Linked DNA regions of Homo sapiens: all the other regions are linked to region 2. Evidence: fine-mapped expression QTL. A gene starts in region 2. Each other region holds a variant in brackets. All regions are shown on one strand. Distances are between the middles of the regions. Region 1 overlaps NDE1 (nudE neurodevelopment protein 1). Region 2 holds the start of NDE1 (nudE neurodevelopment protein 1). Region 3 overlaps MPV17L-BMERB1 (MPV17L-BMERB1 readthrough). Region 4 overlaps NDE1 (nudE neurodevelopment protein 1).

What was found. PIP is the estimated chance that this variant, and not a neighbour inherited with it, causes the effect.
Region 1: its variant is fine-mapped to the expression of NDE1 in whole blood (TOPMed, PIP above 0.99).
Region 3: its variant is fine-mapped to the expression of NDE1 in whole blood (INTERVAL, PIP 0.97).
Region 4: its variant is fine-mapped to the expression of NDE1 in whole blood (INTERVAL, PIP 0.97).

What each region holds. Positions count from the first base shown.
Region 1 is chr16:15,688,314-15,696,065 of GRCh38, forward strand. It overlaps NDE1 (nudE neurodevelopment protein 1), which reads left to right. Exons shown (of 9, transcript NM_017668.3): 6 at 2,831-3,010; 7 at 5,852-5,943. Among named protein-coding and RNA genes, the nearest start is that of NDE1, 42 kb to the left of the region's middle. The variant C/T (reference allele first, on the strand shown) is at 3,474.
Region 2 is chr16:15,646,600-15,654,351 of GRCh38, forward strand. It overlaps NDE1 (nudE neurodevelopment protein 1), which reads left to right and starts at 3,646. Exons shown (of 9, transcript NM_017668.3): 1 at 3,646-3,695. RefSeq lists enhancers at 3,347-3,848, 3,849-4,348 and a silencer at 6,713-7,007.
Region 3 is chr16:15,567,078-15,574,829 of GRCh38, forward strand. It overlaps MPV17L-BMERB1 (MPV17L-BMERB1 readthrough), which reads left to right. Exons shown (of 6, transcript NM_001414674.1): 3 at 906-979. It overlaps BMERB1 (bMERB domain containing 1), which reads left to right. Exons shown (of 6, transcript NM_033201.3): 3 at 906-979. Among named protein-coding and RNA genes, the nearest start is that of MIR6506, 40 kb to the right of the region's middle. The variant G/A (reference allele first, on the strand shown) is at 3,399.
Region 4 is chr16:15,704,847-15,712,598 of GRCh38, forward strand. The region is part of intron 8 of NDE1 (nudE neurodevelopment protein 1); the gene reads left to right. All of the region lies in intron 40 of MYH11 (myosin heavy chain 11), which reads right to left. Among named protein-coding and RNA genes, the nearest start is that of NDE1, 58 kb to the left of the region's middle. The variant C/T (reference allele first, on the strand shown) is at 4,764.

The sequences.
Region 1 (7,752 bases), 42 kb after region 2:
CTTCCAGAGGTAGAATGTTGAAACTGTAATGAGGCATTTGGCCAGGCACAGTGGTTCACACCTGTAATCCCAGCACTTTGGGAGGCTGAGGCAGGTGGATCACCTGAGCTCAGGAGTTTGAGACCAGCCTGGACAACATAGAGAAACCCCATCTCTACTAAAAATAGAAAACATGAGGGTATGGTGGTGGGTGCCTGCAATCCCAGCTGCTCAGGAGGCTGAGGCACGAGAATTGCTTGAACCTGGGAGGTGGAGGTTGTAGTGAGCCAAAATTACACCATTGCACTCCAGCCTGGGTGACAGAGTGAGACTCTTGTCTCAAAAAAAAAAAAAAAAAAAAGACATTCATTAGTGGATTGTCCAAGTTGTTTTTACCTTTTTTTTTTTTTTTTTTTTTTTTTTTGAGATGGCGTCTTGCTCTGTTGTCCAGGCTGGAGTGCAGTGGTGCTATCTCTGCTCACTGCAACCTCTGCCTCCCAGGTTCAGCGATTCCCCTGCTTCAGCCTCCTGAGTAGCTGGGACTGCAGGTGTGCACCACCATGCCTGGCTAATTTTTATATTTTTAATAGAGATGGGGTTTCACCATGTTGGCCAGGCTGGTCTTGAACTCCTGACCCCAGGCGATCTGCCTGCCTCGGCCTCCCAAAGTGCTGGGATTATAGGGGTGGGTCACTGTTGCTGGCCCAATTAATTATTTATAACGTCGATTTGCTTTCTAATGTGTAACCAGTAGGTGGGGGATAAAAAGTAAAAATTCTTAAGTTTAATAAAGTAGTTGTTCCTAGATGTCCATCAGTAATGAAGTGGTTAAATGAAGTACATAGATGTATTTTGTGAAATGTTAATGGTTAAAATGAACAGTAGATAGAAATGTTGTGGTAGAAAGATTGCCAAGGCTAGGCACAGTGGCTGATGCCTGTAATCTCAGTGCTTTGAGAGACGGACGCAAGAGGATTGCTTGAGCCTAGGAGTTCAAGATGAGCCTGGACAACATAGTGATACCCCATCTCTACAAAAATGAAAATTGTAAAAATTAGGCCTGGTGGCATATGTCTGTAGTTCCAGCTACTTAGGAGGCTGAAGTGGGAGGATGACTTGAGCCCAGGAGTTCAAGGTTACATTGAGCTATGATTGTGCCACCGCACCCCAGCCTGGGTGACTGAGTCAGACCCTGTCTCTAAAACAAAAATCATTGCCAAGACATACCACTGAAGTGGGGAGAGTAAGTCATACACAGGACAACATATTGTATGTTTCCAGTAATGCTTAATAAAAAATTTTCTTGTTTTATGCTCAGTAGATACATACATATGTATAAAGTTTATGTTTGAAAATGGAGAGAACAGCTGGGCGCAGTGGCTCACGCCTGTATTCCCAGCACTTTGGGAGGCCAAGGTGGGTGGATCACCTGAGGTCAGGAGTTAGAGTCCAGCCTGGACAACATGGTGAAACCCTGTGTCTACTAAAAATACAAAAATTAGCCAGGTGTGGTGGTGCGTGCCTGTAATCCCAGCTACTTGGGAGGCTGAGGCAGGAGAATCACTTGAACCCGGGAGGCAGATTTACAGTGAGCCGAGACTGTGCCACTGCACTTAAGCCCGGGCAAGAGAGTGAAACTCCATCTCAAAAAAAAAAAAAAAAAAAAATTCAGAGAACAATGGTTGAAAAGCTCTCCCACATGTTATGGTGATGATGAGTGAGGAGGAGCATTTGGGGATAGTCTGGAAAGCATACTTTATTTATTTTTGAGACAGTCTTGCTCTGTCACACAGGCTGGAGTGCAGTGGCGTGATCTCAGCTCACTGCACTCACTGCTTGTCCCCCAGGCTCAAGCGATTGTCTTGCCTCAGCCTCCCAAGCAGCTGGGACTACAGGCGCTCACCACCACGCATGGCTAATTTTTTGTATTTTTAATAGAGACGGGGTTTTGCCATGTTGGCCTGAAAATTCCTGACCTCAAGCAATCCTCCCATCTCGACCTCTCAGAGTGCTGGGATTATAGGCTTGAGCCAGTGCAACTGGCCTTTTTTTTTTTTTTTCTTTTTTTTTTTTTTTTTTTTTTTTTTTTGAGCCAGAGGTCTCACTCTCGCCCAGGCTGAAGTGGTATGATCATGGCTTACTGCAGCCTCGACTTACTGGATTAATGTGATTCTTACACCTCAGCCTCCCAAAGTGCTGGGATTACAGGCATGAGTCACTGCTCCCGGGCATATTTTCATTTAGTGTTCTAAATACACTGCTATGTTGGAATTGTTTTTTCAATAATAAAAGCATTAGTGTGTCACTGTCATAGCTTTTTAAAAATCTGAAACCATTTTGTTAGTCAAGAGAAACATCCTGTAGAGTTCCAAGTCTGCTAGGCAAGGTCCTGTGGGTTTCCCTTTATTTGGGGTTTCTACCTGGAGTGTTTCACCCCAGTAGGTCTTTTTTCTGACTGGTATCTACTGTTGAACCTCTCTCCCTGCACCCCACCAACCCTAAGCAAGGACTTAAATTCCCTTTTTGTTTTTTGAGACGTAGTCTTGCTCTTGTCACCCAGACTGGAGTGCGCTGGAGCAATCTCAGCTCACTGCCACCCTGGCCTCCCAGGTTCAAATGATTCTCATGCCTCATCCTCCTGAGTAGCTGAGATTACAGGTGCCTACTACCATGCTGGGCTAATTTTTGTATTTTCAATAGAGATGAGGTTTCACCATGTTGGTCAGGCTGGTCTCGAACTCCTGACCTCAGGCGATCCACCTGCCTTGGCCTCCCAAAGTGCTGGCATTATAAACATGAGCCACTGCGCCTGGCTGAGGACTTGAATTCCTGAATCCTTTTTCTGGCACAGATTTGCGGCAGGAACTGGCCGTGCAGCAGAAGCAGGAGAAACCCAGGACCCCCATGCCCAGCTCAGTGGAAGCTGAGAGGACAGACACAGCTGTGCAGGCCACGGGCTCCGTGCCGTCCACGCCCATTGCTCACCGAGGACCCAGCTCAAGTTTAAACACACCTGGGAGCTTCAGACGTGGTAAGGGGAGTGGGAATTGCAGGATTTTCTCGGTTCACAAAGTGTTTCTGGGTAAGAATCTGGGGTGGGTCCTGGGGGTGTGATGATTTGCATCAGGCTCAGAGCCTGATTTGCTCTCAGGCTTTGAGCAGAGAGTAGACTGGGATGTTCTTGGGGATGGGCATTGAGATCAGTGAGGACTGGGTAAGAGGCAGTAGTGGAGTCTGATGAAATGGAAACCCCACCCAGAGCGGGTGGCTGCCACTCTGCAGCTACGAGGATTGGCCCTTCATCTGCAGCTTTTTCCATTCTTCAAAGCCAGAAATCCTCTTTTTTTTTGTTGGGTTTTTTTTTTTGAGACAGGATCTCACTCTGTTGCCCAGGCTGGAGTGTAGTGACGTGATCTTGGCTCACTGCAACCTCTTCATCGTGGGCTCAAGTGATTCTCCCACCTCATCCTCCGGAGTAGCTGGGACTAAAGGCA[C/T]CTGGCTAACTTTTGTATTTTAGGTGGAGACACAGTCTTGCCATGTCGCCCAGGCTGGTATCAAATTCCTGGACTCAAGTGATCCGCCCACCTCGGCTGATCCCAAAGTGCTGGGATTACAGGTGTGAGCCACCGCGCCTGGTCAAAAATCCTCTTGTTGAATATAAAACCTCCCAAATTTGAAATGTCACTGACCAAATACAAAAAAGTAAAAAGCGTTCTGTGGGTTTAGTAATACATCCACCGAGAGCTAGACTCAGCGTAACGTGTGCTGCATGGGCAGAAAAAAAGAATCTCAGTTCTCACCCCAGCCCCTCTGCTGACAGCTTCCGATCAGGCCTTTTACAGCAGATATTAATAACAGACAGTTAAGGAGTGCTCAGTGTGTGCTGGCCAGCCTGCAGCCTTCGCCGCAGGCCCAGGATGCAGGTGCTGTCCCCGTTTGATGAAAGTGAGGCTCTGAGTTAAGCAGAGTCATGAAGCAATTGAATGGCAGATGGTTTGGGATTCAGACCCAGGCAGGCAGGCTCCAGGGCTTACCCTACCATCTACTACCTTATCCCTTAGCTTGTCCCCTGGGCATGAAGAGACCAGTGAGACTTCTAGAATTCCGGTGCAGAGCCCTTCTGTTTAGTTTTGTTGAGATGGAGTTTTGCTCTGTTGCCCAGGCTGGAGTGCAATGGTGCGATATTGGCTCGCTGTAACCCCCTCCTCCCAGGTTCAAGTGATTCTCCTGCCTCAGCCTCCTGAGTAAGCTTGAATTACAGGTGCCCACCACCATGCCTGGCTAATCTTGTATTTTTAGTAGAGATGGGGTTTCACCATGTTGGCCGGGCTGGTCTCAAACTACTGACCTCAGGTGATCTGCCTGCCTCAGCCCCTGAAAGTGGTGGTATTACATGTATGAGTCACTGTGCCTAGCCCCAGTCTAGAGCCATTTTGCATACTTTATTTCATTGTTGTTTTTAGAGACACAGTCTTGGTCTGTGGCCCAGGCTGGAGTGCAGTGGTGCAATCATAGCTCACTGCAGCCTCCAACTCCTGGGCTCCAGTGATCCTCCTGCCTCAGCCTCCTGAGTAGCTGGGACTAGAGGCATGCAACTCCATGCCTGGCTATGTTTCCACACTTCAATATGCATGTAGCTTACCTGGGGATCTTGGTAGAATGTACCTCAGATCAAGTGGGTCTTGGGTGGGGCCTGAAATTTCTTTCTCTCTTTTTTTTTTTTTTTGAGACAAAGTCTTGCTCTGTCGGCCAGGCTGGAGTGCAGCGGCATTGATCTTGGCTCACTGCAGCCTCTGCCTCCTGGATTCAAGCGATTCTCATGCCTCAGCCTCCCGAGTAGCTGGGATTACAGGCAGGCACCTGTTACCATGCCCAGCTAATTTTGTATTTTTAGTAGAAACAAGATTTTGCCATGTTGGCCAGGCTGGTCTTGAACTCCTGACCTCAACTGATCGAACTGCCTCGGCCTCTGAAAGCACTGGGATTACAGGTGTGAGCTACTGTGCCTGGCCGAGAGATTCTGCATTTCTAACAGTTCTCATGTGCTGCTGGTGCATGGACCCCACTTGGAGAAGAGAGGCTCTGCAGAGCGGGACCCTTGTAAAGCTGGATCATCCTGTCTATAGTTCTTGTATCTATCACAGATGCCATTATGTTAATTAACTATATGGATTTTCTACAATTTCAAAAGGATTTGTTTTGGGTTTGTTTAAAAAGACTAATGTGGCTGGGCACGGTGGCTCATGCCTGTAAATACCAGCCCTTTGGGCGGCCAAGGTGGGAGGATCGCTTGAAACTAGGAGTTCATGATCAGCCTGGGCAACATAGTGAGACCCTGTCTCTATTAAAAAAAAAATTTGTTAAAGGCCAGGCATGGTGGCTCACGCCCGTAATCCCAGCACTTTTGGAGGCCAAGGCGGGCAGATCATTTGAGGTCAAGAGTTCGAGACCAGCCTGGACAACGTGATGGAACTCTGTCTCTACTAAAAATACAAAAATTAGCCGGGTGTGGTGGCACATGGCTATAATCCCAGCTACTCAAGAGGCCAAGGCAGGAGAATCGCTTGAACCTGGGAGGCGGAGGTTGCAGTGAGCTGAGATCACATCACCGCACTCCAGTCCGGGTGACAGAGCAAGACTAACATGTAAAAATAAGTATTTGTTGCAGTCATCACAAGGACTTGAAAAATTGGTTGTCATACGGGCCTTGGGTGTGTGATGCGGTTAACTACGGAAAGAAATAGGGTAGCTTTTGGGATCCGAGGAAAGGCGTCAGTGTCCCTCCTGTCCCGTGGTTTTGGATCTAGCGATGTTAACGCACAGACATGACTATAGGTTGGTGAGTTACATGCTCTTCCCTTTGCACACCCAGGCCTGGACGACTCCACCGGGGGGACCCCCCTCACACCTGCGGCCCGGATATCAGCCCTCAACATTGTGGGAGACCTACTGCGGAAAGTCGGGGTAAGACCACACTTTCCTGGCGTTTGGTGCCTTCCTGCCTGTCTTTCAGGATGTGTGAAGGGGGTTGATCTAGTTCCTTCCCTCTCTTCTTTTTTTCTTTTTTTTTAGAGACAGGGTCTTGCTCTGTTGCTCAGGCTGGAGTGTAGTGGTATGATCACAACTCACTGCAGCCTCAAAATCCTGGGTTCAAGCGATCCTCTCACCTTAGCTTCCCGAGGAGCTTGGACCACAGGTGTGCGCCACTATGCCTGGCTGATACTTTCATTTTTTTGTAGTAATGTGGGTATCGCTGTGTTGCCCAGGCTGGTCTTAAACTCCTGGCCTCAAGTGATCCTCCCAGGTTGGCCTCCCAAAGTTCTGGGATTACAGGCATGAGCCAATGCGTCCAGCCCCTTTCATAGCAGTGTGGTGAGTTTTAGGTGTGGCTGCTCCTTTAGCATCCCTGGGAATCATTAGAGCTTCCTGTGGGAGTTACTGCCAGACACTCAGAGCTCTGACTCGAAGCCCTGCTCTGAACCCTATGTATGTCTCTTTCCTTTTACCGTTTTTCCTCTAGGAAATTTGGGAAATTAGGGTGATATGTGTGTTTTTTCCTTAACTCGAAAAATTAAGGAGCACTTGGAAACTGCCTTCTCTTTTGGCCGGGTGCTCATACCTGTAATCCCAGTGCTTTGGGAGGCCAAGGTGGGAGATTACTTGAGCTCAGGAGTCTGACACCAGCCCGGGCAACATGGTGAAACCCCCTGCCCCGACTTGGCCTCTACAAGAATGCAAAAATTAGCCAGGCCTGATGGTGTACACTGGTGGTCCCAGCTACTCAGGAGGCTGAGAGGTGGGAGGATTGCTTCAGCCTGGGAGGTTGAGGCTGAGTGAGCTGAGATTCCAACACTGCACTCCATCCTGGGTGACAGCACGACGTTGTCTCAGAAGAGAAAAAAACTGCCACCTTTTTTTTTTTTTTTTTTTTTTTTGGTTTGTTTCTTGGGGTTTAAGTGAATTTTGACACTTTGGGAGACCGAGATGGGTGGATCACCTGAAGTCAGGAATTCAAGACCAGCCTGGCCAACATGGTGAAACCCCATCTCTACTAAAAATACAAAAATTAGCCAGGAATGGTGGTGGGCACCTGCGATCCCAGCTACTTGAGAGGCTTATGCAGGAAAATTGTTTGAATCCGGGAGGCGGAGGTTGCAGTGAGCTGAGATCGCACCGCTGGGTGACAAAGTGAGACTTGGTCTCAAAAAAAAAAAAAAAAAAAATCTTGAAAGCCTAGGGCAAAGAATTTGGCCTTTCAGCTTTTATGTTAATTACAGGGAGGGATCCTTTTGTGCTTAAGTAAAAACATAGGTATTCTTTGTAGTTTATTTTTAAAAATGATGCCTAGAAGGCCACATAATTTAACTCCTACCAAGTTGTCACTGTACACAGTGTATTTGTAGCTACAACTTAATAGAAGCTTGCAACTCATTTCTTTTGTTTTTACTTCTGGTTTTTGGCTGTCTGGTTTGCTATTCTAGAAGCAGGTCTGCATTTCAGTATTTAGCCTAGTTGGAGTATAGAGAAGCCTGGGGTGCTGTCAGTGTCCTTTTGGTTTCCTCAGGGTCTGTTGTAGCCAGACCAAGTCCTTACCAAACTTCTTGCCATTCTGCAGAGGTTTAACAAGGTAAACCAAAGGGTGAAGGATTCCAGAAGTGGATTTCCTACTTCCTACAAGCGGAGTTGGATAATTGGTAGGTTAGTGATTTTTCCAGAAAGCTCCCATTTTAAAAAATTTTTTGTAATTAAAAAAGAATTTTTTTTTTTTTTTTA
Region 2 (7,752 bases):
CAAGGGGGGTTAATACCAGCTACTTGGTAGGCTGAGGCAGGAGAATCGCTTGAACTGGAAGGTGGAGGTTACAATGAGCCGAGATCGCACCACTGCACTCTAGCCTGGGCGACAGAGTGAGATTCCATCTTAATGAATAAGTAAATAAGTAATAAAATTCCTAAGGGGAGGCTTGGTGTGGTGGCTCATGCCTGTAATCCCAGCACTTTTGGAGGCTGAGGCGGGTGGAGCACTTGAGGTCAGGAGTTCAAAACCAGCCTGGCCAACATGGTGAAACCCTGCCTCTACTAAAATAGAAAAATTAGGTGGGCATGGTGGTGAACACCTGTAATCCCAGCTAGTCGAAAGGCTGAGGCAGGAGAATCGCTTGAACCCGGGAGGTGGAGGTTGCAGTGAGCCGAGATTGCAGCACTGCACTCTAGCCTGGGCAACAGAGTGAAACTCTGTCTCGAAATAAAATAAAATTCCAAGGGGGAAGGCATCAGACGTAGTAAAGTGTGAAGCAGCATGTAAATGATTCATTAATGTTTGGGAAGTTTCCTGAAAGACATTTGGTACTTTCCTTAAACCTGTTGATAGGTGGTGGGGTTCCCCTTTGTGCCTCTAAGCAGTTTTTAGGAATTAGCAAGGAGTTCAAAGTAGAATTTGAGAAAGGCTGTTGTAGGATAGCAGGAAGGCAAGATGGGGTGGGAGATCCTGTAATAGCTAAGATCTCTTTGCCTCTAGCATAGTGCTGAAGAAGGAGGGTTTAGGAGTCAGAGCCAGCTCTGAAGCCTGATTTGTTAATTACTAGTTGTAAGACCTCGGACAACTCAATTAACTTCCTGCACCTTTATTTTCTTATCTTTAACATGGATACAATTTAATGCTTTCCTGTGGTTCATCACCTGTGGTTCAGTTGCATGGTCTCCTCTCTACAGTGGCCTTCCCTGACTATAGCATCTGAAGTGACCCCTCCCAGCCCGTTGTATCAAATGGGCTTGCCTTAGTCATAGCACTTATCAGTATCTGAAATGACGTTACTTTTTCTGCTTATAGATTTAGTATGTTTCTCTCTTAACAATATAAGCCCTTTGAGGACAGGTACTTTGTCTGACTGTATTCACTGTGCTGTAAGGGTGCATTGTACAGAAGAATGCTCATAATGCCGGGTGCTGTGGTTCATGCCTATAATCCCAGCACTTTGGGAGGGAGGCTGAGGCAGGAGGATCACTTGAGCCCAGGAGTTCAAGACCAGCCTGGGCAACATAGTGAGATCCACGTCTCTACAAAAAAATGTAAAAATTAGCTGGGCGTGTTGGTGCACACCTGTGGTCCTAGCTACTCCGGAGGATGAGGTGGGAGGATCACTTGAGCCTGGGAGGTCCAGGATGCAGTGAGCTTTGATTATGCCACTGCACTCCAGCCTATGTCACAGGGTGAGACTCTGTCTCACAAAAAAAAAAAAAAGCTGGATAATAATATATATATTTTTAGTTTTTATGGGTACACTGTAGGTGTTTATATTTATGGGGTACATGAGATATTTTGATAACAGGCATGCAATGCATCATAATCACATCAGGGTAAATGGGTGTCCATGACCTCAAGCATTTATCCTTTCTTTGTGTTACAAGCACTCCAATTATACTCCTTTAGTTATTTTAAAATGTACAATACATTGTTGTGGACTGTAGTCACCCTGCTGTGCTCCCAAATACTAGATCTTATTCATTCTAACTCTATTTTTGTACCCACTAACCAGAATGTTCGGTATTTGTTAATGAACATGTTATGACAGGATGTTTTAGAAGAAAATAAAGAAAAAAAGAAATTCCAGCCAAGCATGGTGGCTTGATTTTATTTATTTATTTATTTTGAGATGAAGTCTCCCTCTGTCTCCCAGGCTGGAATGCAGTGGCGTGATCTCCACTCACCGCAACCTCTGCCTTCTGAGTTACATGGCTCACGCCTGTAATCCCAGCACTTTGGGAGACTGAGGTGTATTGCTTGAGGTCAGGAGTTCGAGACCAGCCTGGCCAACACAGTGAAACCGTGTCTCTACTAAAAATACAAAAAATTAGCTGGGCGTAATGGTGGGCGCCTGTAATCCCAGCTACTAGGGAGACTAAGACAAGAAAATCGCTTGAATCTGGGAGGCAGAGGTTGCAGTGAGCCGAGATCGCACCATTGCACGCCAGCCTGGGCAACAAGAGGGAAACTCTGTCTCGAAAAGAAAAAAATTATTTTTTAATTTTAATTTGTTAGTGAACAATTAGGGTTGCTGTGAGAATTGTGCCTGGCACACACAGCCATTTAAAAATCACGATCTTCAGGCAGTGTGTGGTGGCTCACGCCTGTAATCCCAGGACTTTGGGAGGCCGAGGTGGGTGGATCACCTGAGGACAGGGATTCGAGAGCAGCCTGGCCAACATGGTGAAACCCCGTCTCTACTAAAAATATAAAAATTAGCCGGGTGTGGTGATGCGGGCCTGTGATCCCAGCTACTCGGGAGGCTGAAGCAGGAGAATTGCTTGAACTCAGAAGGCAGAGGTTGCAGTGAGTGGAGATCACGCCACTGCATTCCAGCCTGGGAGACAGAGGGAGATTTCATCTCAAAATAAATAAATAAACAAAATCAAGATCATTTAACAAATACATATATTGTACTTACTAAGTTCAAATTTCTGTTCTAAACGTTTTTACAAATGCTGTTAAGTCATTTAGTCCTCTGCATAATGTCGTTTGTTTGTTTGTCTGTTCTTTAAGACGGAGTCTTGCCCTGTCGCCTAGGCTAGAGTGCAGTGGTGTGATCTCGGCTCACTGCAACCGCCACCTCCCGGTTTCCCGTGATTCTCCTGCCTCAGCCTCCTGAGTAGCTGGGATTACAGGTGCGTGCCACCACATCCGGCTAATTTTTTGTATCTTTAGTAGAGACGGGGTTTCACCATGTGCCAGGCTGGTCTTGAACTCCTGACCTCGTGATCCACCCGCCTTGGCCTCCCAAAGTGCTGGGATTACAGGCGTGACCACCGCGCCAGACCCATAATGGCGTTTTATAGATGGGGAAACGGAGTCATAGAGGCTAAACAACTTTCCCAAGACCACACAGTTAGTAAGGGGCAGGACTAGGACTCAAAGCCAAGTTTATGACCAAATTCTGGTGCACTACGTTCTCCTGCTTCTGGAGAAGATAATGATGCTGAAGATTCTACTTTTGGTGTAAAGGAGTAGGAAGGGCACGGGGCACTGCTAGCTTCAGTGGGCCTGAATCTTTGTCTTTCCTTCTGATTTGGAGAAAGTGCAAGAATGGGAAAATGCAATCGAAGTGAAGGAGAGGCCGGCGTATTTTCCTGAAATGCGCGGCCCGCAAGCCCAAACCCGTTTCCCGGGTGTCCAGGCAGCGTTCTGCAGCATCTCCAATGCCCGCCAGCCCGCCGCAGCCCAGCGCCCGGCAGCCGGCGCCTCTCAAACCCCCTCCGGCCAGGAGCCTTCGCCGCTTGGCCGCGCCGCGCCCGGCCTGGGAAAAAAGTTTCCAAACGACGCTGCTCTGCGCTGATTGGCCGAGGCGGACGCGGTACCGTAGAGCAGCAGCCAATGGGAGGCGCCGACCGCAGGCTCCGGGGCGGGGGCGGGGTCCGGAGGGCCGGGGCCGCACCGCCCTTCGCAGCCGCCTCTGCCGCCGCCGCCGCGTTGGCCTCGCCGCCCCTGCTCGGGTAAGTGAGGCGCTGCGCGGGGCTGGGGTCGGGGTGGCTGTCCGGGGACCTCCACCGCGGCTGAAAAGCTCCTCTGCCCCGCCCCAGGATCCCGGGACCCCGGGCCACCGCCTGGCAGGGACCCCTACGCCCCTCGCTTGCGCGTCGCTTCCCGGCCGCCTGGACTCCCCCGGTCCCTGGGCTCCAAAATCCCGCCTCCCTGGAGCCTCCCGTCCTAAAAAGTTAGGCACTGAGTGCCTTGCCACCGGTGCGTTCCTCGCGCTGGCCCCTCGCCCTTGGCAACTTTGTTTCTCTTTCTGCGTTGGTCTCTCTCCCACCCCGTTGCCCTCTTCTCCTTCCGGGACTTCCTGGGTGGTTAAGCCTTGCCGGTCCCCAAACCCCGCTGCCAGGCTCCATCCTCTTTCTCCTCTTCCTTCCTCCCCATACTCCTCTCCTAGATGACCCTCGTTTCTTTTCTCTCTCTCTCCTATTCCTCCATCCTGCCACCCGCTTCTCTGCGACCCCAGACCCCTCGATTGCAGCGTTGCCCCTGCCCTCACACCCACTGTCCCGCCCCTGCAGGCCTCTTTCCAAAAACCCACCCTGCTCCCTCCCTCCGGGAACACGTTTGGGGCAGTCTGCTCTCCGCTTTGCTCCCGTCTCTGCCGCAGGACGGTTCAGGTTTCTTCTGACAGCACTTTGGGGAGGGATTGGGTAAAGGACGAAAATGCTTATTCCGCAGCTTGAGTGATGGCTGGGCTCACTGAGGACCTGAGTCTCTGAGGTCCTGGGAAACCCCGCTGTCACCTTGACACCGCTTTTGGGGAGGCGACTTTATCTTCTCCGAGCCATCTCAGGCTTTCTGCCTCCTGAGGGCCTGAGCTTCCTTGATTGCTTTGTCCGTGGTTACTACCAGGTTGTGCCTCTTAATTTCTACTTTGAGCCTCAGGCCCCTTTTAACTTTCTAAAGAAAAGGCCTTTGCAGCACGACCTAGGCAGGTTCATCATTTTTAGTTTTGTTATAGTGTATTCTAGCATAGGATGGCATTTTAGGACATGGGTCGGGTGTTTTGAAGATTAATTAGATCCCAGCTACTCCTAAAGCCTCTTGTTACCCGACCACCCCAGCCTCCATCACCTCGTTGGTATACAACCCGTTTTTTTTTTTTTTTTTTTGTTTTTGTTTTTGAGACAGAGTCTCACTCTCGCCCAGGTTGGAGTGCAGTGGTGCGATTTTGGCTCACTGCAACCTCCGCTTCCCGGGTTCAAGCGATTCTCCTGCCTCAGCCTCCGGAGTAGCTGGGACTACAGGTGCGTGCCACCACGCCTGGCTAATTTTTTGTATTTTTAGTAGAGATGGGGTTTCACCGTGTTAGCCAGGATGGTCTCGATTTCCTGACCTCGTGATCTGCCCCCTCGGCCTCCCAAAGTGCTGGGATTACAGGCGTGAGCCACCGTGCCGGCCTACAACCCATTTTGAGCCTTTCCTCTTAGTGTGTGTTTTGTGTAGGATTAAATGCAGATGATCTGTGCCGCTGAAGTCTCAGGGGCCTGTGATTCATATATTTTATCCCATGTTGGATAACAGTTTATTAACTTGACTTATTTTTGTTTCCAAAGTGTGTTATTTATTATTTATTTATTTATTTATTTTGAGACGGAGTCTTGTTCTTGTCCAGGCTGGAGTGCAGTGGCATGATCTCGACTCACTGCAACCTCAGTCCTCCGGGTTCAAGTGATTCTTCTGCCTCACCCTCCTGAGTAGCTGGGATTACAGGTGCGTGCCACCATGCCCGGCTAATTCTTAGTAGAGATGGGGTTTCACCATATTGGCCAGGCTGGTCTCAAACTTCTGACCTCGTGATCTGCCCACCTCAGCCTCCCAAAGTGTTGGGATTACAGGCATGAGCCACTGCACCCGACTCTATCATTATTATTATTTTTTATGTAGAGGCAGAATCTTGCTTTGTTGCCCAGGCTGGTCTCAAATTCCTGGGCTCAAGCAGTCCTCCTGCCTTGGCCTCCCACAGTGCTGAGATTACTTGCAGGCATGAGCCACTGCATGCAGCCCAAAGTGTGTTCTTTTGCCTTAGAATGTGAGCCGAGAATTGACACTCCTTTTCCTCACAAGGTAATTTCCTAACATGAGCATTCCTGTGTACAGAAAGTTTGTGCCTGCAGTTAGTACTACACGTGCACCTCGTGCAATGGATGTGGGTGCTTTTTGTCTGCCTCCTTCAGCAGTGCCCAGCACTTAGTAGGTATTCAAGAAATGTTTGAAAAGGGTTGGAGGAGGCAAAACCACAGTAGGAAAAATTCTTTCCCTGTCACTTGGTTCAGTAGAATAAAATTATCCTGGAACAATAGCTATTTTACTTTTTGTCCAAGTTTTTGTTTGTTTGTTTTTTGAGACGGGATCTCACTCTGTCGCCCAAGCTGGAACACAGTGATGCAATCACAGCTCACTGCAGTCTCGACCTCTCAGGCTCAAGCAATCCTCTTGCCTGAGCCTCCCAAGTAGCTGGGACTAAAAGCACATGCCACCATGCTTGGCTAATTTTTAAAATTTTTTGTAGAGATTGGGGTCTCACTATGTTGCCCAGGCTGGTCTCGAACTCCTGGGTTCAAGCGATCCTTCCGCCTCAGCCTCCCAACGTGCCGGGGTGGGAGAGAGCCACCGCGCCTGGCCTAAGCTTTTTAAAATCTCTAAAGCGATCTATGCTTACTGTATATATGTGTATGTAGTTTACCTTAAAGCAAGGTGTCAGGTACAAATCCACAGGGCTTGCTTTACCCCCATTCTGGTGCATCCTCCAGACCCTTTTCTATTCTGTGTACAGAGAGAGGGAAATAAACAAAAATGGGCACCCATTTTTAACATATCCTGAGCTTTCTTCCATATTAGTACTTACAGTTCTTAACAACTGCATCGTTTTCCATTCAGTCCTCTGTTGACATTGAGGTTTCCAGTTTTCCACATTCGTGAATGATGGTGTGCATCTTTGAACATGGGTCCTTGCCTGCCTAAGTATTTTTGTAGGTTGATCATTGTAAACTTGGAAAGCACAAAGACAGAAGCCAGGCTTGCTGACTCTTGACTGATGTTGCCCCAGTGATGTCACTCCTGCAAAATGCAAAGCCTGCGTCCTGGCTGTCGGAGCATGTGTGGACATTTGGCAGCTTCTTTCTCTTCCCTCCTGCTCTTCTGTTTGTTTTGATTGGGAAGGATATGGAGTGGGGATGGAGAAGGGTGTTGAGTAATTATCGATGGTTTCTGTATGTTTATTGCTCCTGACTAGCAGTGCTGGGTTTCTTCTCTCAGAGGAAAGCTGAAAGAGATTGCTTTGCTTTTTTCCAGAGTTTTAAAATCAGAGGTGTGTGTCTCGAGTGTATTTTCAGACTTTTTTGTTAGCTTTAATCATGTAAAACATGCAAAAAAAAAAAAAGCATGTGGAAACAATTTTTTTTTTTTGAGACGGGTTCTCGCTCTGTCACACAGGCTGGAGTGCTGTGGGGCGATCTCGGCTCACTGCAACCACCGCCTCCCATGCTCAAGTGATCCTCCCACCTCAGCCTCCTGAGTAGCTGGGACCACAGGTGTGCATCACCACACCTGGCTAATTTTTTTGTGTTTTTGGTAGAGATGGGGTTTCACCATGTTGCCCAGGCTGGTCTCTTATCTGCTGACCTCAGGTGATCTGCCTGCCTCACCCTCCCAAAGTGCTGGGATTACAGGCATGAGCCACCACACCCGGCCGGAAACAAATTTTTGAAGGAGGCATAGATCTCTGTTGTGCAAAATAGATACTTTTTGTACCACTGGGTCCTAGTTTGTCATTGTTCCTTGCATGATCCCATCAGATTTGTCTACAGAGCTGCTGGGGCATGATGGTGTGGTGGCGTATTAAGAACGCAGGTTAGTGGCACACAGATGAAATAAATGCATGTGGGGTGCATTTTTAAGATAGCAGGTGCAAAGTTGTATATACTGAGACCAGGCATTAACACTTGCCTATTACAGTGCCTTTTAAAACACTATGTGAGGGCCGGGTGCAATGGCTCACACCTGTAATCCCAG
Region 3 (7,752 bases), 80 kb before region 2:
GGAGGGGTTGTGCAGAGGTGGGAGGATCCCTTGAGCCCAGGAGTTCAAGTCTGCAGTAAGCTATGATCACGCCACTGCACTCCATCCTGGGCAACAGAGCGACACTCTATCTCCAAAAATAAAAAATAAAAAATTAAACATTTTCAAAATAAAAATGTTTTTAAAAAATCCAGAGGAATACATACTAAACCGTTGACAATGATTCTCTCCGAAGGACAGAGGGAGACTTTCCTCTATGTTGTGAATTTCTGCAGTGTTTAAAAAACGTAAACTTTAGCTGAAAAACGAAACTGAATATGCCATATGAACCCACTTATATAAGCAAACCTAAGTCAGGCACATGAAGACTGGAAGGAGCTCTATCGAGGTGTTATTAACAGTGACTGATGGCCAGGCACCGCGGCTTATGCCTGTAATCCCAGCACTTTGGGAGGCTGAGGTGTGCAGATCACTTGAGGCCAGGAGTTTAAGACCAGCCTGGCCACCATGGTGAAACCCTGTCTCTACTAAAAATACTACTAAAAATACAAAAAAAGTTAGCTGGGCATGGTGGCAGGCACCTATAATCCCAGTTACTTGGGAGGCTGAGGCAGGAGAATCGCTTGAACCCGGAAGGTGGAGGTTGCGGTGAGCCGAGATCATGCCACTGCACTCCAGCCTGGGCAACAGAGTGAGACTCTGTCACAAACAAACAAACAAACAAAAAACAGTGATCATTTCTAGGTGGTGGGATAATTGAGCAGTGTTTGGCTTTTTCCTTTTGAGGGAAAACCTCTACAATGAGCATGTATGGCCTCTTCAAAAGATAACCCACCTTTAATAGCTTCTTTGTGTTAACCGGGTGATGCTCAGGGCGTAATGCTCTGCTGATGTAACCTGCTGTTGATGGTGTCCTGTTTCCCCAGGATGGATGACATCCAGCTCTGCAAGGACATCATGGACTTGAAGCAGGAGCTGCAGAACTTGGTCGCCATCCCAGGTAACCATTTGCAACTTCACCTTGTGCTAAACAGGTGCTTGGGGGCCCCCAGCCTGGCCCATCTGTACGCCTGGGTCTGGAAGACAGAGCCTCATTCTTGCAATGCAGTGCTCCCTGACTGCATGTGTCAAACACAACTTCGAGTCAGGAAGACCTGGGTTCAAGTCCTAGTGAATTCTGGTCACCTTCTTGTCCTTGGACAAGTCACTGTACTTCTCTGAGACTCAATTTCTCCTCCTCTGAAAATTGGCTAGTAATAGTAAGAGGGTCTAATTCATTGAGTATAAATATCCTAAAGAGGCTGGGCACGGTGGCTAATGCCTGTAATCCCAGCACTTTAGGAGGCTGAGATGGGTGGCTTACTTGAGGTCAGGAGTTTGAGGCCAGCCTGGCCAACATGGCAAAACCCCATCTCTACTAAAAATACAAAAATTAGCCAGGTGTGGTGGCACACACCTGTAATCCCAGGTAACCGGCAGGCTGAGGCAGGAGAATCACTTGAGCTTGGGAGGTGGAGGTTGCAGTGAGCTGAGATTGTGCCATTGCACTCCAGCCTGGGCAACACAGCGAGACACTGTCTCAAAAAAATATATAATTAAATTAAATTAAATATCATAAAAATCGATGAGATGATGCAAACTAAGTGCTTAGCTTGATATTTGGCCTCAAGAGTCCAGTAAATATTAGCAATTATGACCATTATTATCCTACTTGGGAACAGATGAAGTGTGTACAAACTCTAACTTTGAAGTCACCCCAGATTTGGTAGTTAATAATGCCTGACTTATTTGGCATCTTCTCCAAAAAATTTTCCCCTGCCCATCAGGCTGTGTTAGTTGCCCTCTGTGGGGCTTACCCTTATCAAAATGCTAGTCCCAGGCCAGGCATGGTGGCTCACGCCTGTAATCCCAGCAGTTTAGGAGGCTGAGAGGGCAGATCACTTGAGTTCAGGAGTTTGAGAACAGCCTGGCAAACATGGTGAAACCCCATCTCTAGTAAAAATATGAAAATTAGCCAGGGGTGGTGGCGGGTGCCTGTAATTCCAGCTACTCAGGAGGCTGAGGTGGGAGAATTGCTTGAACCCAGGAGGTGGAGGTTGCAGTGAGGTGAGATCTCACCACTGCACTTCAGCCTGGGTGACAGAGCGAGACTCCGACTCAAAAAAAAGAAAGAGAGAACTGAGTAATTTATAAAGAAAATAAGTTTAATTGGCTCACAGTCCTGCAGGCTGTACCAGAAGCATGATGCTGGTGTCTGCTCAGCTGCTGGAAGGCCTCAGGAAACTTATAATCATGGCGGAAGACAAGGGAGCAGACATGTCACGTGCCCAGAGCAGGAGCAAGAGAGTGAGGCGGGAGGTGCCACACACTTTTAAAAGACCAAATCTCATGAGAACTCACTATCACAAGGACAGTACCAAGGAGGATGGGGCTAAACCATCATGAGAAACCTCCATCATGATCCAATCACCTCTCATCAGGCCACGCCTCCAACACTGGGTATTACATTTCAATATGAGATTTGGGCGGGGACACACATCCAAACTATATCAGAATGGATGCTGCTGATTGGTTGGGGATGCAATCATAGGTGTGTGAAAAATGATTCTCAGGGGTGCTAAGTCCACTTCTGGGTGGCAGGTCCACGTGGATCATCATTCATCAGAAATGCAAAACCTAAAGAGATATCTCAAAAGGCTGATCTTAGATTCTGCAATAGTGATGTTATCTGCAGGAGTAATTGGGGAAGTTGCAAATCTTGTGACCTCTGGAATAATGGCAGTAGTCATTTATGTCTACACCTTAGCAGAATTCAGCCTCCTCCCATCCTTCTAACATGGGGGCCTTTTATTAGCTTTACAAAGGCAGTTTAGTTGGTGGAAAAGGTTATAATCATTTAAACTATAAACTAAATGTCTCCCAAAGCTAGCATGGCCTAAACCTGGGAATGATTAAGGGCAGCTTGGAGGTTAAAGGCAAGATGGGGGTTGGTTAGATCAGATCCCTTTCACTGTCCTAATTTTCTCACTGTTATCATTTTTGCAAAGGTGTTTTCAAATAGGCCAGATAAGCACCCACCATTACCCTTGACTTGAATGTTTTTGCCATGCTGTCAGTTCAATAACTATGTCCCAAGAGGCTGTTCTGCAGCAAGCTCTGAACCTAGGAGCCGGGCTTGCAGTGATGAACAGAGAACGGTTCTCCACTCTCAAGGAGCCCCCAGGTTAGCAGAAAGAGACTGGGCCCAGCACACAGTGGGTGCCCATAAGTGGCAGTTCTTACTGAGCTACAAGTGCAGCATGATGAGCCTTAGAGCAGCGTTTCCCAACCTTCAACTATTGACATTTGGGGTTGACAAATGTCAGTATCTTCCTTTGGGGTTGATCATTTTTTGTTGGGGGTACGGGGCTCTGTGTTGT[G/A]TCTTGTGGGATGTTGAGTTTCATCCCTGGCCTCTACCCACTACAGGCCATTAGCACAACGTACCTCTCCGCTACCCCTCAATGGTGATGTTACCTGAAAGGGATCCTGATCCAGACCCCAAAGTTCTTGGACCAAGAGCAAGAAAGAATTTAGGGCGAGTCCGTAAAGTGAAAGCAAGTTTATTAAGAAAGCAAAGGAATAAAAGAATGGCTACTCTGTAGGCAGGGTAGCAGCTTGGGCTCCTCGATTGATTGTACTTATAGCTATTTCTTGATTATATGCTAAACAAGGGGTAGATTATTCATGAGTTTTCTGGGAAAGGGGTGGGCAATTCCCACAACTGAGGGTTCCTCCCCTTTTTAGACCATGTAGGGTAACTTCCTGATGTTGCCATGACATTTGTAAACTGTCATGGCACTGATGGGAGTACCTCTTAGCATGCTAATACCTTATAATTAGCATATAATGAGTAGTGAGGACGACCAGAGGTCACTTTCATCGCCATCTTGGCTTTGGTGGGTTTTGGCAGCCTTCTTTACTAATGCTGTTTTATCAGGAAGGTCTTTGTGACCTGTATCTTGTGCCGACCTCCTATCTCATCTTGTGACTTAGAATGCCTAACCTCCTGGGCATTCAGCCCAGTAGGTCTCAGCCTTATTTTACCCAGCCCCTATTCAAGATGGAGTCACTGTAGTTCAAACCCTTCTGACAGTGACAACCAAAAATGTCTATAGATGTACAGATGTTGCTGAATGTACCCCAAGCGAGGTCAGGGGGGTGTGCAACATTGCCCTATGAAAGGAAAATAAAGTCCCAGGACCCCAATTCACTATACCAAAAGGAAAAGTTAAGCTTGGGAACTATGAGTCATACAAAAACCTACTTTTTTTTTTTTTTTTGAGACGGAGTCTCGCTCTGTCCCCCAGGCTGGAGTGCAGTGGCGCGATCTCTGCTCACAGCAAGTTCCGCCTCCCGGGTTCATGCCTCAGCCTCAGTCTCCCGAGTAGCTGGGAGCCTGTAGGCACCTGCCACCACGCCCGGCTAATTTTTTGTATTTTTAGTAGAGGTGGGGTTTCACCGTGTTAGCCAGGATGGTCTCGATCTCCTGACCTCATGATCCACCCACCTCAAGCCTCCCAAAGTGCTAGGATTACAGGTGTGAGCCACCACACCCAGCCAAAACTGCCTTTCTTTTTTTCCTAAACAGATAGCTGCAAGATAGAAAGGCCACCTATCTTCCCAGGGGCCTCCCTCACCCTGTCAATGTAAATTAACAGCTTATCCTAACAGGTAGGGGACTAAGACAAGACTATAAATCATCGTCCCTCCGCCCACCCGGAGACAAATGCACATTTGACTTCCTCCTCTACTCCGCGTTTCCTTTATCCTATGTAAAATGCAAATTCACTGAGGGCCAGAGAATGCAATCCTCCCCTTCCTGCCCTCTCTTTCCCCTTTAAATATTGAAGTCCTTAAGATCCTCTGCAGAAAAAAGCACAGGCCGGGGATCCTATTGCTGCCTGTGTCTCTTTTTCCCAGGTGCCTCCTCGACTTTGGCAAAATAAACCTCCAGATTGATTGAGACCTTCTCAGACACTTTGCAGCTTACAGCTCCCACATAAGAACTACTACTTTAGTAATTAGAGTGCAGCAATCTGGGTTTGAATTCAGCCTTAGCAGGCAGGTGAACTTCGTGAAAGTTCGCGACTTAATTTCTCTGAGCCTTGAATTCCTTGTTGGGAAAATGAGGCCAATAATACTACCCCCCGCATGGTTGTTGTGAATATCCCATAAATAACAAAGGCAAGGTGTAGGAGTCTTCCACACAGTCTTGTTGTAAGGGTAGTGTGCGCAATGACAGTAGAACTGAATCCTCTAGCTTTCGTGAGCATTTACTAGGTGCCCAGCACTGTGTAGGCCCTAAGGATAAACGAGTGAATAGACTTTCCTAGTTGAAAGAGAGCGACAGCTAGTGGGTATGGGGTTTCTTCTGGGGGTGATTAAAATGTTCTAAAATGGATTGTGGTGATGGTTGCACAACTCTGCAAATACACTTGGAACAGATGAACTGCATGGTATGTGAATCATATTGCAATAAAGCTGTTACCAAAAAAAGTTAAATGTCAAACATAAAACAACGAAGGAATGAGGGAAAAGTACCAAAGTCTATTCTCCACCCACTAGAAACCCCAATGCAATTGATCTGGCATTGTTGGCTTTGGACTCTGGCATTGTAATAGAACTCAACTTGTGATATGGTTTGGCTGTGTTCCCACCCAAATCTCATCTTGAATTGTAGCTCCTATAATCCCCGTGTGTTGTGGGAGGGACCCAGTAGGAGATGATTGAATCATGGGGGACAGTTTCCCCCATACTATTCTCATGGTAGTGAAGAAGTCTCATGAGAGCTGATGGTTTTATAAGGGGTTTCCCCTTTCGCTTGATTCTCATTTTCTGTGCTGCCTGCTGCCAAGTAAGACGTGCCTTTTGCCTTCTGCCGTGATTGTGAGGCCTCCCCAGCCACGTGGAACTGTGAGTCCATTAAACCTCTTTTTCTTTATAAATTACCCAGTTGCGGGTATGTTTTTATCAGCAGCGTGAAAATGGACTAATACAACTAGGGTCTGCTTTCCTGGCACAGTAAGACCAGCTGTCTCCCCAGAGTTTTTGCAGTGGTAAAAAGGAAACAGTTTATTTGCAAGGCTCCAAGCCAGGAGGACTGGGCAGCTAATGCTTCAAGCCTGACCTCCTCAATGGCTTATAGGTAATGTTCTGTCCAACAGGTTCACCTTGCCCTCTGCCTAGACAAACCTGACTTATCAAGACTGGGGAATTACAATAGAGAAAGAGTAATTCATGCATAGCCGGCTGAGGGAGACTGGAGTTTTATTATTCCTCAAATCAGTGCCCCTGAGCATTCCAGGATCAGAGTTTTTAAAGACGATTTGGTGGATGGGGGTGGGGGTGCAGTGAGAATGGAGTGCTGATTGGTTGGGTCGGAGATGAAATCACAGGGAGCCGAAGCTGTCCTCTTGCACTGAGTCAGTTCCTGGGTTGGGGCCACAAGGTCAGATGAGCCACTTTATCTGGGTGGTACCCACTGACCCATCAAGTGCACGGTCTGCAAAATACCTCAAGCATTGATCTTGGTTTTTACAATAGTGGTGTTATCTTCAGGAGTAATCTGGGGAGGGTCAGCATCTTGTAGCCTCCAGCTGCATGATTCCTAAACCATAATTCCTAATCTTGTGCTTAATTTGTTAAGTCCATTTTCACACTGCTGTCAAGAACTGCCCAAGACTGGGTATAACGGAAAGAGGTTTCATTGACTCACAGTTCGGCATAGCTGGGGAAGCCTCAGGAAACTTACAATCATGGTGGAAGGTCAAGGAGAAGCAAGGCACTCTCTTCACAAGGTGACAGGAAGGAGAATGAACGCAGGAGGAACTGCCCAACCCTTATAAAACCATCAGATCTCATGGAACTCACTCACTATCATAATTCCTAATCTTCTGGTTAATTTGTTAAGTCCATTTTCACACTGCTGTCAAGAACTGCCCAAGACTGGGTATAAAGGAAAGAGGTTTCATTGACTCACAGTTCGGCATAGCTGGGGAAGCCTCAGGAAACTTACAATCATGGTGGAAGGTGAAGGAGAAGCAAGGCACTCTCTTCACAAGGTGACAGGAAGGAGAATGAACGCAGGAGGAACTGCCCAACCCTTATAAAACCATCAGATCTCATGGGAACTCGCTCACTATCACGAGAACAGCATGGGGAAACTGCCTGCGTGATTCAGTCACCTCCACCTGGTCTCTCCTTTGACACGTGGGGATGATGGGGATTATAATTCAAGATGAGTTTTGGGTGGCGACACAAAGCCTAACCGTATCACCTACAAATGCAGTCTAGTTCCCAGGCAAGAAGGGAGTTTGTTTTGGGAAAAGGCTGTTATCGTCTTTGTTTTAAATGATAAAGTAAGTTCCTCCCATAGTTAGTTCAGCCTATGCCCAGTAATGAACAAGGACAGCTTGGAGGTTAGAAGCAAGATGGAGTTGATTAGGTCAGATCTCTTTCACTGTCTCTTATAATTTTGCAATGGCGATTTCAGTGCAGGTTTTTAAAGGCAGGGGTAAATTTCAGTCAAGCAGAAGTTACAGGCAAAATTGTAAATCAATACATTGAGATTACATATCAATTTTGGCCTAAAAGGGCTGCATACGTTGAAGCTGGGGCTCACAGGTCATAGGTAGATTGAAAGATTTTCTAATTTGCAATTGGTTAAGGAAGAGAAGCTTTGTTTAAAAATCGGGGGTCAAGGCCAGGTGCAGTGGCTCACGCGTATAATCCCAG
Region 4 (7,752 bases), 58 kb after region 2:
TTATTTTATTAAATTGAGATGAGGTCTTGATATTGTTGCCCAGGCTGGTCTGGAACTCCTGAGCTCAAGCAGTTCTCCTACCTTGGCCTCCCAAAGCGCTGGCATTACAGGCGTGGGCCACCACACCTGGCCTTCAAGGTGGATTTAAAAAAGAAATTTAAGAGTCTCTCTCACCCAGGCTGGAGTGCAGTGGCATGATCTTGGCTCACTGCAACCTCTGCCTCCTGAGTTCCAGCAGTCCTTGAGCCTCAGTATTGAGTAGCTGGGACTACATGCACGTGCACACTGCCACGCCTGGCTAATTTTTGTATTTTTAGCAGAGATGGGATTTTGCCATGTGACCCAGGCTGGTCTTGAACTCCTGGCCTCAAACGATCCACCTGTCTTAGCCTCTCAAAGTGTTGGGATTACAGGTGTGTGCCAGTGCACCTGGCCTCTGAGGTGGATTTTAGCTCCAGCCAGTAGGACACCCCTGTCTCTCCTTAATGCTGCCATCTCCTCTCTGCGCTGGTTCTCTCTTGAGTTTATCACCTCGACTTCACAGGAAGGGCTGGTCACGTGAGGGGAGACTTTGGGTAGGAGGAAGAGAGTGGGCAGAAGAAGGAAAAATCAGATCTGCCTGCTGCCAGCCTTCACCGTTCAGAAGAAACACTTAACTCTTTTCAGCAACCGCAACAAATAATTATGTTGGGCTCTGGCCATCTGGCCCTGTTTGACCTGAATCGGAAGACAGGTCTTATTTTAGGACATCAAAGAAGAGAGCAGACTTTTGCTCCCCACGCAAGGGTTGGATAAGAAGCCATAAGGATGAACACAACTCAGTGACCAATTCTTTAGTCAAAAGGAACAACTCGGCTGGGCATGGTGGCTCACACCTGTAATCTCAGCACTTTGGGAGGCTGAGGCGGGCGGATCATGAGGTCAGGAGATCGAGACCATCCTGGCTAACATGGTGAAACCGTGTCTCTACTAAAAATACAAAAAATTAGCCGGGCGTGCTGGCGGGTGCCTGTAGTCCCAGCTACTCGGGAGGGAGGCTGAGGCAGGAGAATGACATGAACCCAGGAGGCGGAGCTTGCAGTGAGCCGAGATGTGGCCACTGCACTCCAGCCTAGGCGACAGGGTGAGACTCCGTCTCAAAAAAAAAAAAAAAAAAAAATCAAGGCCCAGAGATTCATGATCACTGAGAAGAGGAATTCGCAAATGACCCTTTTGTTGACAGAGGATGGGAGAGACCCCGGCTGGGAAAGCCCACCTGGCTATAAAGGATGGGACTTCCCGCAGTGCAGCGATCAGGAATAAATACTTAAAGCTGCAGCCACTTCAAAGTAAACACTCCTAGCCCAGCTTCACAGAGAAGCTTCTGGACTTGCAGCCCTACTAGAGAACTCTCCATCCTTCTCTCTCTAGATGTGACCCTTAAGTCTTTTTCTTTTTTAGCACTGTTTTCCAAGCGCTTGACTCAGAAGGATGCTCAAATTCAGCGCAGAGGAGCAGCAGTTTGACTGTTCCCTGTACGCTCCCCACACAGCTCTCTTCGTCACAGTTTTAACTCCAGGTTCAAACCCTGATGGGTTGGCCAGTTGCTGCGACTCATGCCTGTAATCCCAGCACTTGGGGAGGCCGAGGTGGGCAGATCACTCGTGAGGTCAGTTGTTCGAGGCCATCCTGGCCAATATGGTGAAACCCCGTCTCTACTAAATATACTAAATTAGCCGTGCGTGGTGGCAGGCGCCTGGAATCCCAGTCACTCAGGAGGCTGAGGCAGGAGAATTGCTTGAACCCAGGAGGTGAAGGCTGCAGTGAGCCAACGTTGTGCCACTGCACTCCAGCCTGGGAAACAGCAAGACTGTCTCCAAAAAAAAAAACAAAAAAAAATCTGATGAGCTGGGAAGTAGTCCCTAACCTCCACATCAGTGCTCTAGGCACTCTCTTTTTGGCTCTTGGAAGAGTCTATTTGCTAACTGGAAAAGCTTAATGGATAAATTTGCTCCCTTGACCTAAGAAATACATTGTGCCCTGGGCCGTTGAAGCTCCTTGCTTGGCTGTCAGCCTGCAAGATACTCTGTTTTGGCTGAAGTGCTTTTCTTGGAACTGGTTTCAAATCCTAGACCAAGGTTGACACCAACTATACCTGTTACAGGAACTAAGGGACCCCCCTAAAGGTTTTCTTAAAGGGTCTGATCCTGGAGAATCTGGAATTTTTTTTTGAAATAGAGTCTCGCTGTGTTGCCCAGGCTGGAGTGCAGTGGCGTGATCTTGGCTCACTGCAGCCTCTGCCTCCCAGGTTCAAGCGATTCTCCTGCCTCAGCCTTCCAAGTAACTGGGACTACAGACATGCCACCACTCCTGGCTAATTTTTGTATTTTTAGGAGAGACGGGGTTTTACCATGTTGGCCAGGCTGGTCCTGACCTCAAGTTATCTGCCCGCCTCGGCCTCCCAAAGTGCTGGGATTATAGGCATGACCCACTGTGCCTGGCCTAGCATTTGGATTCTATTCGTGGACTCAGCTTATCCAAGGCCTCGGGAATCATCTTGAGTGTAAGCACCTGCTAGTTTGCAAGGACTCAGTTTCCCACTGACCAGTGGGTTCTGCACTTCAGCCCACCCTGGAATTTGGCTTATCCTATGATCCCAATCAGCTGGTAGGAGAGCTGCTTGAAGTGTCCTAGAAACTCATCTGCTCCCCCACAAAACTGGCTCTTAACAAGACCTCACCCTGCGCTTTAAGTATTTTGGTAGTGACAGCAAAGCTGAGATTCTCCAAAAATGAAGATGGACACAAATGAGGGTTGGTTTGGCCTCTCCATGAGGTGAAGTCAGATCCACATGGCCTAACTTCACCTGTGAAAAGTTGGTCATGCTTGTAATCCCAGCATTTGGGGAGGCCAAGGCGCGCGGATCACCTGAAGTCAGGAGTTTGAGACCAGCCTGGCCAACATGGTGATATCCTGTCTCTAATAAAAATACAAAAATTAGCTGGGCGAGGTGGCGGGAGCCTGTAATCCCAGCTACTCAGAAGGCTGAGGTAGGAGAATCGCTTGAACCCAGGAGGCAAAGGTTGCGGTGAGCCAAGATTGCGCCATTGCACTCCAGAGCGAGACTCCGTCTCAAAAAAAAAAAAAAAAAAAAGCAAAATCCCAGAGCAGCAGAGACCTCTTCATGCTTTCTTGGGAAGGGCCCTGTGTGCATCCTTGAGTCTTGGGTATCCACTCCCCAGTCCCTGAACATGTACATGCCCGTGAAGCCTCCAGAAAAGGCTCTGCCAGGACTGTGCTTGGCTTTGCGGTGGTCAGCTTCCACCCCGTGTGCTGAAAATGCAGTTTGTAGCTAGACATCACTCAAGCCACGTGCAGCCCCCGGCATTTGTCAGACATCGCAGTGAGCTCATTTCCTTCGCAGACAAGCCTGTGAAAGCTGAATCATGGGAGGACTGGTTGCCGCGCCGCAGTTACCGTGAACTTTGTGATCTCTGACTTGTGACCCAGACCAGCCAACTAGAAGCCAAGTACGTTCTCCAGGAATGTGCCCAGATAGTGGAACTGTCATATTCATTCAGTGCAGTGTCTTCACTGGACAAGGGAGGACAGCACTGCTGAGTGCCCTAACCACGTAAGAGTGGCTTTTGGCATGAAAGGAAGAAAAATCCAAGCTACACACACAGCCTCTGCCATCTCGTCAAGATGCAGTGATAAGGGCGCACACTGTTGGGTGTCATGTCACATGTGCTGCCCAGAGGCAGGAAGGACAGTGGGTCAAGAGATGAGGTCTATTTGTCATCCTGATCTTGGTTTCAATGAAAGCTTTGCACAAAGATATCCAAGCCTCCAGATTTTGCAAGAATCTCGTGGAAATGTGCAAGGGTTTAAAAATTGGGGTGGGCAGAGGGGCGCATTGGGCAGAAAAGAAATGGATACTGAGACAACACACAGCTGCGAAGCTGAAGGCATGATACCTGGTGCATCACTGCGAAGTTTCCTGTGGGGGGGGCCCTCTGAAACAGAGAGAGAATCCCCGGAGGTTACCATCAGCAAACAAGAAGGAGCCCGGTTAAGTATATTCTTAATTGTTAAAGACATTTGCTTCGATTTAATAATTAAAGGCACTCTTTTTTATTTTGAGATAGTCTCTGTCACCCAGGCTGGAGTGCAGGGGTGCGATCTTGGCTCACTGCAACCTCTACGTCCTGGATTCAAGTGATCCCCTTGTCTCAGCCTCCCGAGTAGCTGGGATTACAGGCAGGCCCCACGTGCTTGGCTAATTTTTGTATTTTTAGTACAGATGGGGTTGCACTATGTTGGTCAGGCTTGTCTCCAACTCCTGATGTCAATGATCTTCCTGCCTTGGCCTCCCAAGGTGCTGGGATTTGGGATTACAGGCATGAACCACCGCACCTGGCATTAAAAGCACCCTTAAGTCAACGTTGCAGTGAATCACCTGACGCCAAGAGCATTTGGTGAGGCTGGTAGATGAAAGGATAAGCAGTTTTTTGATACTCTGTCACCCAGGATGGAGTGCACTGGCATGATCTATCTCTGCTCACTGCAACCTCCACCTCCCGGGTTCAAGCGATTCTCCTGCCTCAGCCTCCCGAGTAGCTGGGATTACAGGCATGCACCACCGTGGCTGGCTAATTTTCATATTTTTAGTAGAGACGGAGTTTCACCATGTTGGCCATGCTGGTCTCGAACTCCTGACCTCAAGTGATCCACCCACCTCGGCCTCCCAAAGAGCTGGGATTACAGGTGTGAGCCACTGCACC[C/T]GGCTCAGTTTTTTAAATGGAAAGGAAAATGTCTGTCCTTTAGAGCTACTTTTAAGAACCTCCTATAAATCCCATGATTGCATACTGGTTCAGGGAAGTAAAAGCATTTGAGCAAGCTAGTTTGAGAAATCAGTGTTGGAACAGAAGCCAAGAAGTCCCAGGCAAGGAACCTGCAGCCGCCTGTCCCTTGGTTTATGATTACTTGCTCTTCATTAGCTTTCGGGCCTCTAGCAAGAGAGGAGAGGTGGAGGCCTTGTACAGCTCTTGCCGGAGGTAACTGGCAGTGTAGCCAGTGGTAGGTAAGTGGGTCTGGCTTTAGAGAGGGCTTGTGTCGAGATGCGTCTGGCTGATAGAACTTGGTGAAACTCGCACTACAGTTCCTTCTTGGCTGAGGAGCCAGGCATGCTTACCAACCTCCCTCAGGGCTCTAGTGCCTGATTTTATGTTTTTGTGCACCCAAAAGATGCAGAAGGCAGGACAGACCTTCCACCTGCATTATGTGTGTATTCGTGTCGGAACTGGCAAAAATGGTCTTTTTGTTCCACTTTGCCCTTGGCTGCCCAAGAAGGCTCAAGTGTCTGGGGCAGAACCCACAGGAGGTGTCCAGTGTGTGCTAAAGAATCACTGGGCCGGCCGGGCATGGTGGCTCACGCCTGTAACCCCAGCACTTTGGGAGACCGAGGCAGGTGGATCACGAGGTCAGGAGATCGAGACCATCCCAGCCAGTATGGTGAAACCTTGCCACTACTAAAAATACAAAAATTAGCCAGGTGTGGTGGCACGCACCTGTAATCTCAGCTACTTGGGAGGCTGAGGCAGGAGAATCGCTTGAACCTGGGAGGCAAAGGTTGCAGTGAGCCGAGATCGCGCCACTGCACTCCAGCCTGGCAACAGAGCTAGACTCCGTCTAAAAATAAATAATAAAAAGAAAAGAAATCACTGGGCCTGAGAAAGGGAAGCAGAGACAGCAGTGGGGTAGGGAGTCAGAGTGGCTGTATCCCCATCGCTCAGCCCAGCCACTCAGGAGAGGCAGGGGGACTGGTTGCCAGCAGAGCACATCTGAGGGTTTTTGTTTTTTGTTTTTTTTTTGGAGACAGAGTCTTGCTCTGAAGGCTGGAGTATAGAGGCTTGATCTTGGCTCACTGCAGGCTCCTCCTCCTGGGTTGCAAAGGAGTGTCCTGTCTCAGCCTCACGAGTAGCTGGGATTACAGGCATCTGCCACCACGCCTAGCTGATTTTTGTGTTTTTAGTAGAGATGAAGTTTCACCATGTTGGCCAGGCTGGTCTCGAACTCCTGACCTCAGGTGATCAGCCCACCTCAGCCTCCCAAAGTGCTGGGATTACAGGCGTGAGCCACCGCGCTTTGCCCCAGGAGTCTTCACAGTGAGAACAGCTCTCCTCCACTGACCCCTCAACCCTGGGAGATGCTTCCAGGCCCCTGCTGTACTTTGGGAGCCTAGGCCTGGTTTCTCTCCTATCCATGGGGGACCAACAAGCGCTCACCATGCAGCGAGTGGGGCTTTTCCCTGAAGGCTTGGTGCCCTGCGCCAGCTGCTCTCTTCCCCTTCTCAGAGGGGTTTGGACTTTTCCCTGTCTCACGCAGTGGTCCCCAAACTCTAGAGGTGATTTCAGATGGCTTCCGGGCATGCCATCCGCTAACTGAACTGGGCCCTGAGAAAGTCATTTCCTTTCCAACTCTTTTTAAACAAGTCTAATTATGATGTCAGAGAGAGTCTATTTGGTGCTAATGGCTGTTGTCACTCCCTTTTTAGTGGAGAAGTAGGCTTCAGGTCTTGGTGATCAAGTTGTGGCCACAATAGCTAGATATTGAACTTGATACTATTTTTATCATATTACTTTCATCGTAACCAGTTGATAGAGGTGATGCTGGTTTAAAAATATAGAGGAGGTATGTTTATTTGCCGTTATATTCATGTATGATTAAAACTGTTAAAAGATCAAGTCATTGGTATTAAAGGTAGTAAGAGGCTCAGCACATGGCTGTGGTGGTATGAGAATGAAGCGGGGAAAATATCTAGGACCCGAGGGATAAAGGTTCACTCTGCCTGGTGCTGTCCTAGACACTGGAGATTTTTTTTTTGAGACCGAGTTTTGGTCTGTCACCCAGGCTGAAGTGCAGTGGTGCGATCTCAGCTCACTGTAACCTGTGTCTCCCAGGTTCAAGCGATTCTCCTGCCTCAGCCTCCCTAGTAGCTGGGATTACAGGCACGCCCCACCATACCCGGCTAATTTTTGTGTTTTTAGTAGAGACGGGGTTTCACCATGTTGGTCAGGCTGGCCTTGAACTCCTGACCTCAGGTGATCAGCCTGCGTTGGCCTCCCAAAGTGCTGGGATTAAGGGGTGAGCCACTGCACCCAGCCTGGGCAGGATTCTTTAGGGAAAGTTGACCAGATTCTCCCATAGATGGGATGTGGGGTATAAAGGAGACCAAAACGTTAAGAAGGACCACGAGGTTTGTGATGTGAATTGTTGGCAACTTCATCATTTTAGCTGCTGAGCTGGAGAGAGGAGCCAGTTTGGGGGTGAAGAGTTTCAGTCAGGACTTGGGGTGCAGCATGTTTGGTGTGAGCTGCCTATTAGACATCCATGTGGGAACGGGAGGGTGGTCTGAGGTTCTAGGAAGAAGCTAGGGCTTCTCAGAGATGAACTGAGGAGTCATTAGATATACATGGAATTCTAAAGCGCCAAGATTAGTTGAGACCTCTCACCTAGCGCTGGGGAGAGATGAAAACAACTAAGGCCGTGCAGTGGTCCATGCCTGTAATCCCAGCACGTGGGGAGGCTGAGGCGGGTGGATCACAAGATCAGGAGTTCAAGACCAGCCTGGGCAACATGGTGCAACCCCATCTCTACTAAAAATATAAAAATAGGCCAAAAATAGCTTGAACTGGGAGGCAGAGGTTGCAGTGAGCTGAGATAGTGCTACTGCACTCCAGCCTGGGCAACAGAGCAAGACTCTGCCCAAAA